4 separate regions of the Homo sapiens genome follow, and all the other regions are linked to region 2. The links come from fine-mapping of genetic effects on gene expression. A gene starts in region 2. Each other region holds a variant in brackets. All regions are shown on one strand. Distances are from middle to middle.

Evidence for each region.
Region 1: its variant is fine-mapped to the expression of BMPR2 in whole blood (INTERVAL, PIP above 0.99).
Region 3: its variant is fine-mapped to the expression of BMPR2 in whole blood (INTERVAL, PIP above 0.99).
Region 4: its variant is fine-mapped to the expression of BMPR2 in whole blood (INTERVAL, PIP above 0.99).

The regions. Positions count from the first base shown.
Region 1 is chr2:202,519,052-202,521,737 of GRCh38, forward strand. BMPR2 (bone morphogenetic protein receptor type 2) reads left to right here. Exons shown (of 13, transcript NM_001204.7): 6 at 1; 7 at 1,036-1,150. It also overlaps the pseudogene RPL13AP12. Among named protein-coding and RNA genes, the nearest start is that of FAM117B, 110 kb to the right of the region's middle. The variant C/CT (reference allele first, on the strand shown) is at 1,002.
Region 2 is chr2:202,374,994-202,377,679 of GRCh38, forward strand. It overlaps BMPR2 (bone morphogenetic protein receptor type 2), which reads left to right and starts at 1,334. Exons shown (of 13, transcript NM_001204.7): 1 at 1,334-2,557. The coding sequence starts at 2,482. RefSeq lists enhancers at 182-341, 452-741, 1,896-2,679, 2,682-2,686 and silencers at 832-881, 1,032-1,521, 1,652-1,711, 1,782-1,841.
Region 3 is chr2:202,532,799-202,535,467 of GRCh38, forward strand. All of the region lies in intron 9 of BMPR2 (bone morphogenetic protein receptor type 2), which reads left to right. Among named protein-coding and RNA genes, the nearest start is that of FAM117B, 100 kb to the right of the region's middle. RefSeq lists an enhancer at 1,415-2,413. The variant G/A (reference allele first, on the strand shown) is at 1,423.
Region 4 is chr2:202,509,442-202,512,127 of GRCh38, forward strand. The region is part of intron 3 of BMPR2 (bone morphogenetic protein receptor type 2); the gene reads left to right. Among named protein-coding and RNA genes, the nearest start is that of FAM117B, 120 kb to the right of the region's middle. The variant GT/G (reference allele first, on the strand shown) is at 1,541.

The DNA of each region.
Region 1 (2,686 bases), 140 kb after region 2:
TGTAAGTTCTTCATAGAAAATAAACTGAGGCCAGGTGTGGTGGCTTATGCCTGTAATCCCAGCACTTTTGGAGGCTAAGGCAGGTGGATCACTTGAGGCCAAGAGTTCAGGACCAGCCTCGCCAACATGGCAAAACTCCCGTCTCTACTAAAAATACAAAAATTAGCCGGGTATGATGGCACACATCTGTAATTCCAGCTACTTGGGAGGCTGAGGCATGAGAATTGCTTGAACCCGGTAGGCGGAGGTTGCAGGGAGCCGAGATTGTACAGCCGTACTCCAGCCTGGGCGACAGAGCAAGACGCAATCTCAAAAAATAAAAAAAAATAAACTGACATTTATATTAGTTGTTAATCAGACTTCAGAGAGGACCACTGTATTACAGATAGAGCATTGCTGACTCACAAACTGGATTATTAATGGTCTGCAATGAAATAAGGATCTCACACCAGAATGTGAATCAACTAATTATACTGTTTGTTTCGCTGTCTCCTCCTTCTTTCTGTTTTTCTCTTCTTTATTTAATTTTTTGATAACAAGTTTTTTGATGAAAGAAGCAGTACTTTGATTGACATTCATTCTGATGCAACATTCTTTTCTCATCAGCAACTGGTAATAGTTTGTAGATAAGCACTTTGAGTGGCACCAATACATAAATGAATATATTTACAAAATCCTTTTGTTTTCTACTTATTAACCATAACAATATAATTTGTATTCATACTGGTGAATGATACACTTTTCTATCTTAATTTGATCAAAGAATTGTTTAAAAGGAAATAATCATTCATAATTTTTAATATTAGAGACATAAAAATTTATAATGTTTAAATTCCCCTTTCCATCCCTTCCTCTCCTCTCTACACACAGAAATGTCATACTAACTCTTTCAAGATTCTGAAATGTAGTAGTTCATTAGATCTTCATGGAATCCTAGCCTATTTGCAAATTCTTTATAAGGATGCTAATTTACTCTTCATGTTAAAGTGAGTTAATTCTAC[C/CT]TTTTTTTTTTTTCGCATTTTTTCCTCTATATAGGGATCTTTATGCAAGTATTTAAGTCTCCACACAAGTGACTGGGTAAGCTCTTGCCGTCTTGCTCATTCTGTTACTAGAGGACTGGCTTATCTTCACACAGAATTACCACGAGGAGGTAAGATAGTCAATAGATGAAATTGACACTCATGTGGGTTCAAAATTCACAACAGGAAATTTTAATTATATCTTCAAAGTAAAAGTATAATTTATATTATTGGAGATTTATTATTAGTCAGTTGTTTGAAAGATTCAGCATGAAATGCATTTGAAATGTAACAGAAAGAGCTTTCCCACGCAGCTGCCAAGATGGCAGAGGGGCAGTCCTGGTGCTTGATAGCTGAGTAAAACTCCTGGGCTACCTGGAGGCTATCATGACCCAGCAGAGAAAGTAGTGGTCATGTCCTGTGAGGACATCAACATTTCTGGCAGTTTCTACAGAAACAAGTTAAAGTATCTAGCCTTCCTCTGCAAGCGGACAAGCACCAACCCTTCCCAAGGACCCTACCATTTATGGGTCCCCAGCCACATCTTTTGGCAGACCACCTGCGGTAGGCTGCCCCACAAGACCAAGCAAGGCTAGGCTGCCCTAGATCACCTCAAGGTGTTTGATAGAATCCCCCTGCCATATGACAAGAAAAAGCAGATGGCGGTTTCTGCCACCCTCGAGGTTGTACGTCCGAAGCCTTGAAGAAAGTTTGCCTACCTGGGGCACTGGGCTCAGAAGGTTGACTGGAAATACCAGGCAATGACAGCCACCATGGGGGAGAAGAGGAAGGTCTATTATCAGAAGATCTGTTACCAGAAGAAAAACAGCTCATGAGGCTATAGGAAAAGGCTGAAAAGAACATAGAGAAGAACATTGACAAATACACGAAGGTCCTCAAGGCCCACAGACTCCTAGTCTGAGTCCAATAAAGACTGTTTATTCCTCATGCTTGTCCTGGCCTGCTCTTCCTCCATTGTTGCCATGGGGATGTAGGGGACCCAGGGGCAGCAGTCCAGGTGCTCTAGGCAGCCTGGGACTTACAAAGCTGGAGATAAGGAATGAATCTTAGTCACTGTCTTTCTATTAGGTTACTTTAAACAACTCTAAAAGTTGTGCAGACATAATTTGTCTATGATGTACTTGTTTGCAAGAGAGTTTCATAAAATCATTAGTAAAAACAACCTGCTACTTCAGTTGGAATATTGGCAGCCCGGGCGTGATTGATGGCTCATGCCTGTAACTCTGACACTTTGGGAGACCAAGGCAGGTGGATTGCTTGAGCTCGGGAGTTTGAGACCAGCCTGGGTAACATGGTGAAACCCTGTCTCTACAAAAAATATAAACATTAGCTGGACGTGGTGGCATGCACCTGTAGTCGCAGCTACTTGGGAGGCTGAGCTGGGAGGATTGTTTGAGCCTGGGAGGTGAAGGTTCTAGTTAGCTGAAATCACACCACTGTATTCCAGCCTGGCTGACAGCTAGACTGTCTCAGAAAAAAAAAAAAAGCAAATGTGAACTGGAACACTAATTGAAGAGTTTCCCTACCTTGTGAATGGGGAATCTGTTTGTATTTCCTACCTTGTCATATACTGTACTCTGCAGCTGTTAGGATGTGAGAAAATGCCTGTGGGGACAGTATGAGCCTGGTGTTGTACAGGGTATTTA
Region 2 (2,686 bases):
GAAGCAAGCAGAGCATGACTTAAGGAGTCTATCTATGACTGTATCTGTGGAACTGCCCTTAGCCACAATGAAAGACCAGCAAAACCAGCCTTCAGCATAACCCTCCTGCCTGGTAGGAGATGGGAAGGCCAGACTTCACCCCTCAAGATCGCCCTCCCACGCGCATTTTCCACCTCGCAGCTAAGAATTCAGTCCAGACTTCCGATCATGGCGCCACGCACGTCACCTTCTCCCCTCGCCGCCAGCAAAATCCCACCCACGTCGGCTGACCCCGCAGCGGGGTGTAAGGGCGGGAGGGATCCCGTCTCCTATACTGGTCGCTTGTACAAACCAGATCCAAAAAACGCACTACACAAATCCTTGGAAACTGCGGTACCAACGGGATCTTCTCAATTCCTTGAGTGCAAAATGATCCCACTCTCTATCCCGACACAACTCTAACTCCATTTTCCTTTCACGTGCCCTAAAAAGCCCTCAAGGCCCCCAGCCTTGGTGAATCCAGGCCCTCTCTCGGGGTGGGCACCGCGCTGTACGGACAGACGCGCGCACGCAGCGGGACGATTTATAGAATTAAAAGTCTTTTTTTTTTTTCTGGCTTCGCATCCTTGCAAATACTCAATATTCCTGTCAACTAAGAAGGCTAAGGGAATGGGCGGTTGAGGAAAGCAGGACGTCGATTACAGCGAACACATCAAAGGGGTGGTCTTTCCAATTCCGGCTTTTGTTTGAGTCAGAGGGGAGCCTGAGGAGGCCAAGGTCTCCGGTTCTGGGAAAGGCGGGTCCATCCGGATTCTTTGGGCTGCGGAGAGGGAGGTTCCAGCCCCGTGAAACAACAGAGGGCAGTTCTGCCCCTCGAGGCTTTCCTCCGAGAGTACTGAGACGGAGACGCCTCAGTCGGGAGAAATCCCGGAACTCGGAGGAGTCTGCTGAACGCCGAACAAAAGGATGTGGCCGTCGTCTCTTAAACAAATACGCGAATCCCAAGCCATGCACATTTGGAAGGCATGTGTATGTGTGTGAAGGAGAAAGGCCACCGCTGCCCACCGCAGCCCCACCCAGCCCTCGGCCATTCACCGGAGAGACGCGCTGCGGTGGGGCCTCGGAGCCCTCAGCCAGCCCCGAACGAGGGGCGGGGCCGGGCGGGGCCGTGAGCGCGCAGGCGCAGTGCGGGCTTCATCCCGCCGCCGGCGCCGCCGCCGCCGCCGCCCGCTCTGCACCACAGGCTAGAGACAGACAGGGCCGGGAAGAGCCGGAGACTGAGGAGGAGGCGGAGGCGGCGGCGGAGGCGGGGCGACTCCGGTGACCGGGAGCGCCGCAGACTGGCAGCTGCGGCGACTCCCCCCTTTGTGTCTGGTCTGCTCGGAGCCACTGGAAGTGCCTCCCGGAGGGACGCAGGGTGTCTCGCCGCCTCCCTGCCCACCCCCTTCCCCGGCTACCTTCATCCGCCCTCCCGCCGCCCCCCGCCCTCGGTCCGCGACGCCCGAGTTCCGTCAGGAGCCCAGAGCTGCGGGAGAACGAGGCGGCGGCGGCGGCGGCGGCGGCGGCGGCGGCGGCAGCAGCAGCGGCTTCCTCGGGGGGTTGTGATTCGCTCACAGGAGCCATTGACGGGAGAAGAGGAGGCTTTCTTGGTGGAATTTACCTCAGGCAAGATCGAGCCGCAGGAATAAAAAGCGAGGAAGGGAAGGGAGCGCCGCCGGGAGGACTAGAAGGGGCAGCCTCTCACACCCACTCCGCCTGCCGTCTCGGGGAGCCCGGACCGGGGCCGCGACCGCGACCCCTCCCCTCCCCCGCTCCTACCTCTCCTCAGCCTTCGCCAGGGCCTCCCCAACCCTCTCACGGTTGTTCTGCGAAGGCGTGGGGACTGTGAGCTTGTCCATGGAGGCAGGCACCTTTTTTGATCCAGTCAAGGAAGAGGATTTGTTGTTTTCGAAATCAGAGTGAAGGAAGCACCGAAGCGAAACTTAAGGAATCCTGCCTTCCCGGAGCCGCGGGCGATGCGACTAGGGCTGCCGGGCGCCGCCGCCGCCCGTCCGGCTTCGTCCTTCCCGGCAGTCGGGAACTAGTTCTGACCCTCGCCCCCCGACCCCGGATCGAATCCCCGCCCTCCGCACCCTGGATATGTTTTCTCCCAGACCTGGATATTTTTTTGATATCGTGAAACTACGAGGGAAATAATTTGGGGGATTTCTTCTTGGCTCCCTGCTTTCCCCACAGACATGCCTTCCGTTTGGAGGGCCGCGGCACCCCGTCCGAGGCGAAGGAACCCCCCCAGCCGCGAGGGAGAGAAATGAAGGGAATTTCTGCAGCGGCATGAAAGCTCTGCAGCTAGGTCCTCTCATCAGCCATTTGTCCTTTCAAACTGTATTGTGATACGGGCAGGATCAGTCCACGGGAGAGAAGACGAGCCTCCCGGCTGTTTCTCCGCCGGTCTACTTCCCATATTTCTTTTCTTTGCCCTCCTGATTCTTGGCTGGCCCAGGGATGACTTCCTCGCTGCAGCGGCCCTGGCGGGTGCCCTGGCTACCATGGACCATCCTGCTGGTCAGCACTGCGGCTGGTGAGTAGCTCCGGCCGGCACGTCCCGGCCACTGCCCCTGCGGGTGGCGAGGGAGGGAGCCCGCAGAGGCCGAGGCCTGTGCTTGCCCTTCGCCATGCGTCCCCCCGATCGCGGTGCAGCGGAGCTGCG
Region 3 (2,669 bases), 160 kb after region 2:
TAGTACCTAACTCAACTTTTATGTAAGAATCTTTTTACTTTCATTTAAACCTTTAGTTCATTGCTATCTAGTGTTTAGAAACATTATTAGCAGCAGGATGCAAATTAGGAATTTTTTTTTTTAGAGTACTCCAGGTTTTCATCTGAGTGAAATTTAATTAATTGCCAGTAATAGCTTATCTAACTGTATTTTGTTTGGTCTCTGATTGCTTTAGCAGTAAACATTTTCCTTATGCACCATCTGAGTGTTTGAGACAAGGTACACTTACGATGTTTACTGAGTTGAACCCAGAAGGAATTAGAAGCAATGAATTATTTGTAAACACTTTTTCCTTTTCTTTTTTTTTCATGCTCCCTTTCTCCCTCCTTCCTTCTTTCCTTCTTTCTTCCTTCCTTCCTCTTCTCTCACCTTATCTCCTTCCCTTCCTCCTCTTTTCTCTTCTTCCTTCCTTTCAATGAAAGAATACTCATTGGCCAGGTGCGGTGGCTCATGCCTATAATCCCAGCACTTTGTGAGGCCGAGGCTTGCGGATCACCTGAGGTCAGGAGTTCGAGACCAACCTGACCAATATGGTGAAACCCCGTTTCTACTAATAATATGCACCTGTAATCCCAGCTGCTCAGGAGGCTGAGATAGGAGAATTGCTTGAACCCGGGAGGCAGAGGTTGCAGTGAGCCAAGATCTTGCCGTTGCACCCCAGCCTGGGCAACAAGAGCAAAACTCTGTCTCAAAAAAATAAAAAAAGGCCTGGCGCGGTGGCTTACACCTGTAATCCCAGCACTTTGGGAGGCCAAGGCAGGCGGATCATGAGGTCAGAAGTTCGAGACCAGCCTGGCCAATATGGTGAAACCCCATGTCTACTAATAATACAAAAATTAGCCAGGCGTGGTGGCGAGCACCTGTAGTCCCAGCTACTCGGGAGGCTGGGGCAGAGGAATTGCTTGAACCCAGTAGGCGGAGGTTGCAGTGAGCTGAGATCACGCCATGGCTCTCCAGCCTGGGTAACAGAGCAAGACTCCGTCTCAAAAAAAGGGAAAGAATACTCATTTAAGTGAATGTTTGTTTGAGGCTTACTTGAAATAGCCAAATGAATTTATAGTTTTCCCTTCTTAGGGATTACATCGTTGTAGTATCATCTAAAAACTTTAACTATAAATCTGGCATTGCATTCTTCTAGGTGCTATACAGATGATTTGATCTGTGTGGCCACTGTCTTTTAGGAGTAACACCATTAAAAGCATAGAAAAAGGAACTAGCATTGGACAAATTTATGAAATAGAGCTATTTAATTTAAAAAGATTAATAATGGAGTTGAATTGTTTGGCTTTAAAGACATTAGGCATTACACATTAGTTTATATATATCAAGTGTGTGTATATATATATACACACACACACACATATATATGTATCGTGTGTGTGT[G/A]TATATATATATATAAATAAAATTTTTATTTATTTATTTATTTATTTATTTATTTTTTATTGATAATTCTTGGGTGTTTCTCACAGAGGGGGATTTGGCTGGGTCATAGGACAATAGTGGAGGGAAGGTCAGCAGATAAACAAGTGAACAAAGGTCTCTGGTTTTCCTAGGCAGAGGACCCTGCGGCCTTCCGCAGTGTTTGTGTCCCTGGGTACTTGAGATTAGGGAGTGGTGATGACTCTTAACGAGCATGCTGCCTTCAAGCATCTGTTTAACAAAGCACATCTTGCACCGCCCTTAATCCATTTAACCCTGAGTGGGACACAGCACATGTTTCAGAGAGCACAGGGTTGGGGGCAAGGTCACAGATCAACAGGATCCCAAGGCAGAAGAAGTTTTCTTAGTACAGAACAAAATGGAAAGTCTCCCATGTCTACTTCTTTCTACACAGACACGGCAACCATCTGATTTCTCAATCTTTTCCCCACCTTTCCCGCCTTTCTATTCCACAAAGCCGCCATTGTCATCCTGGCCCGTTCTCAATGAGCTGTTGGGCACACCTCCCAGACGGGGTGGTGGCCGGGCAGAGAGGCTCCTCACCTCCCGGACGGGGCGGCTGGCCAGGCGGGGGGCTGACCCCCCCACCTCCCTCCCGGACGGGGCGGCTGGCCGGGCGGGGGGCTGACCCCCCCACCTCCCTCCCGGACGGGGCGGCTGGCCGGGCGGGGGGCTGACCCCCCCCACCTCCTGGCCGGGCGGGTGGCTGACCCCCTGCCACCTCCCTCCCGGACGGGTCGGCTGGCCGGGCGGGTGGCTGACCCCCCCACCTCCCTCCCGGACAGGTCGGCTGGCCTGGCTGGGGGCTGACCCCCCCACCTCCCTCCCGGACGGGGCGGCTGGCCGGGCGGGGGGCTGACCCCCCCACCTCCCTCCCGGATGGGGCGGCTGGCCTGGCGGGGGGCTGACCCCCCCCACCTCCCTCCCGGACGGGGTGGCTGCCGGGCGGAGACACTCCTCACTTCCCAGACGGAGCGGCTGCTGGGCGGAGAGGCTCCTCACTTCTCAGACGGGGCGGCTGCCGGGCGGAGGGGCTCCTCACTTCTCAGACGGGGCGGTTGCCAGGCAGAGGGTCTCCTCACTTCTCAGACGGGGCGGCCGGGCAGAGACGCTCCTCACCTCCCAGACGGGGTCTCGGCTGGGCAGAGGCGCTCCTCACATCCCAGACGGGGCGGCGGGGCAGAGGCGCT
Region 4 (2,686 bases), 130 kb after region 2:
GACTAGGAAAATTGTCATTTCTATTTTGTAATAAAAGCTTGATAAAATACACATTAGTTAGCTATATGCAATGTTCTCATAATTTAGTAAAAGCAAAAAAAAGCCTAGAAAGCTAAATCTTAGTGGAAAAATCTTTATTATTAAATTTTCAAATGTACTAATTCTGTGCTTTTTATGTACAACTTTTGGTTTTTCAGGTTTTTCCAAAATCTAACCTTTGTTACATTAAAATTTTAATATTTTATTTAATTGGTAATGTCCTTTAAATAACATTAATCTAAATTTTCAATACTGAAATTTAAACATGTCCACATATTTAAGAATTAAAAATTAGATTTTTAAAAAATAAAATTAGATTCCTTATCACTTCTCATTCCTAGTTGAATTCAAAATACATTTTTCAAATAAGTAATATGGTTCAGTTCTTTTGGGAATTATAACATTGGATATCTTAACTCATTTCCAGAGACAGTTTTATCTGTAATGCCATATTAATATTACATTTAATATTTAATTTTATTTTTTATACAGAAGACAAGATAATCTTTATTAACTCATATTTACTTGAATTACACAAGAATGTAAGAACACATTTAAATATTCAGTGTTTCTCATTTGGATGTGGCAAAACTTTGTTTCACGTTAGACTACGAATTTTTTTATTGTAACAAATATTTAAAGAAATACCAGTTTTTGGCTGGGCGCGGTGGCTTATGCCTATAATCCCAGCACTTTGGGAGGCCAAGGTGGGCAGATCACGAGGTCAGGAGTTCGAGACCAGCCTGACCAACATGGTGAAACCCTGTCTGTACTAAAAAATACAAAAATTAGCTGGGTGTGGTGGCGCGTGCCTGTAATCCCGCTACTTAGGAGTCTGAGGCAGAAAAATCACTTGAACCCAGGTGGCGGAGGTTGCAGTGAGCTGAGATCGTACATCTGTGACATGGATAATATTCAGTGATAAAAGGAAATGAACTGCTAAGCCACAAAAAGACATGGAGGAACCTAAAGTACATATTGCTAAGTGAAAGAAGGCAGTCTGAAAAGTCTGTATATTGTATCATTCCAACTATATGACTTTCTGGAAAGGAAAAACTATAGGCACATAAAATATCCTTGTATAGTCATGAATCTATAAATTATTTAGTTTTGTGTGTGTGTATGTGTATGTATTGAAAATAGTTTATCTTTTAGGTTTAGCAAATTCTAAAATGAGGTTTTTTTTGTTTTTTTTTGTTTATTTGTTTGTTTGCTTTTGAGACGGAGTCTTGCTTTCTCACCCAGGCTGGAGTGCAATGGCATGATCTTGGCTCACTACAATCTCTGCCTCCTGGGTTCAAGTGATTCTCCTGCCTGAGCCTCCTGAGTAGCTGGGATTACAGGCAAGCGCCACCATGCCCAGCTAATTTTTGTCTTTTTAGTAGAGCTGTGGTTTCACCATGTTGGTCAGGCTGGTCTCAAACCCCTGACCTTGTGATCCGTCTGCCTCAGCCTCCCAACGTGTTGGGATGACAGGAGTGAGCCACCGCACCTGGCTTTA[GT/G]TTTTTTTTTTTTTTTTTGATTGAAGTAAAATTCACATAACTTAGAATTAGTCATATTAAAATGTACCACTCAACACATTCATAGTGTTGTGCAACTATTACCTCTGTCTAGTTCCAAAACATTTTCATCACCCCACAAGGGAAACCCTGTATCTAATAAGCAGTCACTCCCTATTTCTTCCTCTCCCAGTCCCTGGCAACTACTAACCTGCTTTCTGTCTATGAATTTGGCCTATTCTGAGTATTTCATTTCAATGGAATCATAGAATATTCAACCTTTTGTAAATCCTTTGTAGGAATATACCACATTTTGTTTATCCATTCATCAGTTCATGAACATTTGTGTTGTTTCCACTTTCGGGTGTTGTAAATAGTGATGCTGTGAACATGCATGTAGAAGTTTTTGTTTGAACACTTGTTTTTGGTTCTTTCTGATATATGCCTAGGATTGGAATTGCTGGGTCTTATGGTAATTCCATGTTTAACTTTTTGAGGAACTCACAAACTGTTTTCTACTGTATACTTACCATTTCATATCCCACTTGCAATGTACAAGAGTTATAATTTATCCACATCCTTGCCAGCGCTTTTTATTTTCTTTTTTTTTAATTGTAGCCATGCCAATGTATGTGAAATAATATCTCACTGTGGTAAAATGAGTTTTATATGTAGCTTTTCTGCCTGTAACTTACTCTGTATGTTAAAAGGAGGCACAATGATCAATGTGTTAAAATCTATTAATATCTGAAAAATGGGCTGGGCACAGTGACTCACACCTGTAATCCCAGCACTTTGGGAGGCCAAAGTGGGCACATCAACTTGAGGCCAGGAGTTCAAGACCGATCTGGTTAACATGGTGAAACCCCATCTCTACTAAAAATACAAAAAATTATCCAGGTGTGGTGCTACAAACCTATAATCCCAGCAACTCAGGAGGCTGAGGCACAAGAATTGCTTGAGTCTGGGATGTGGAGTTTGCAGTGAGCTGAGATTGCACCACTGAGCTCCAGCCTGGGCGACAGAGCAAGACTCTCTTAAAAAAAAAAAAAGAAAGAAAGAAAAAAGAAAATATAATAAATGGTCTGCAAATTAAGAGTATTTCAGTGTTGTTTCAACATATCCTTCTATAGAAATATAGTTTAGAC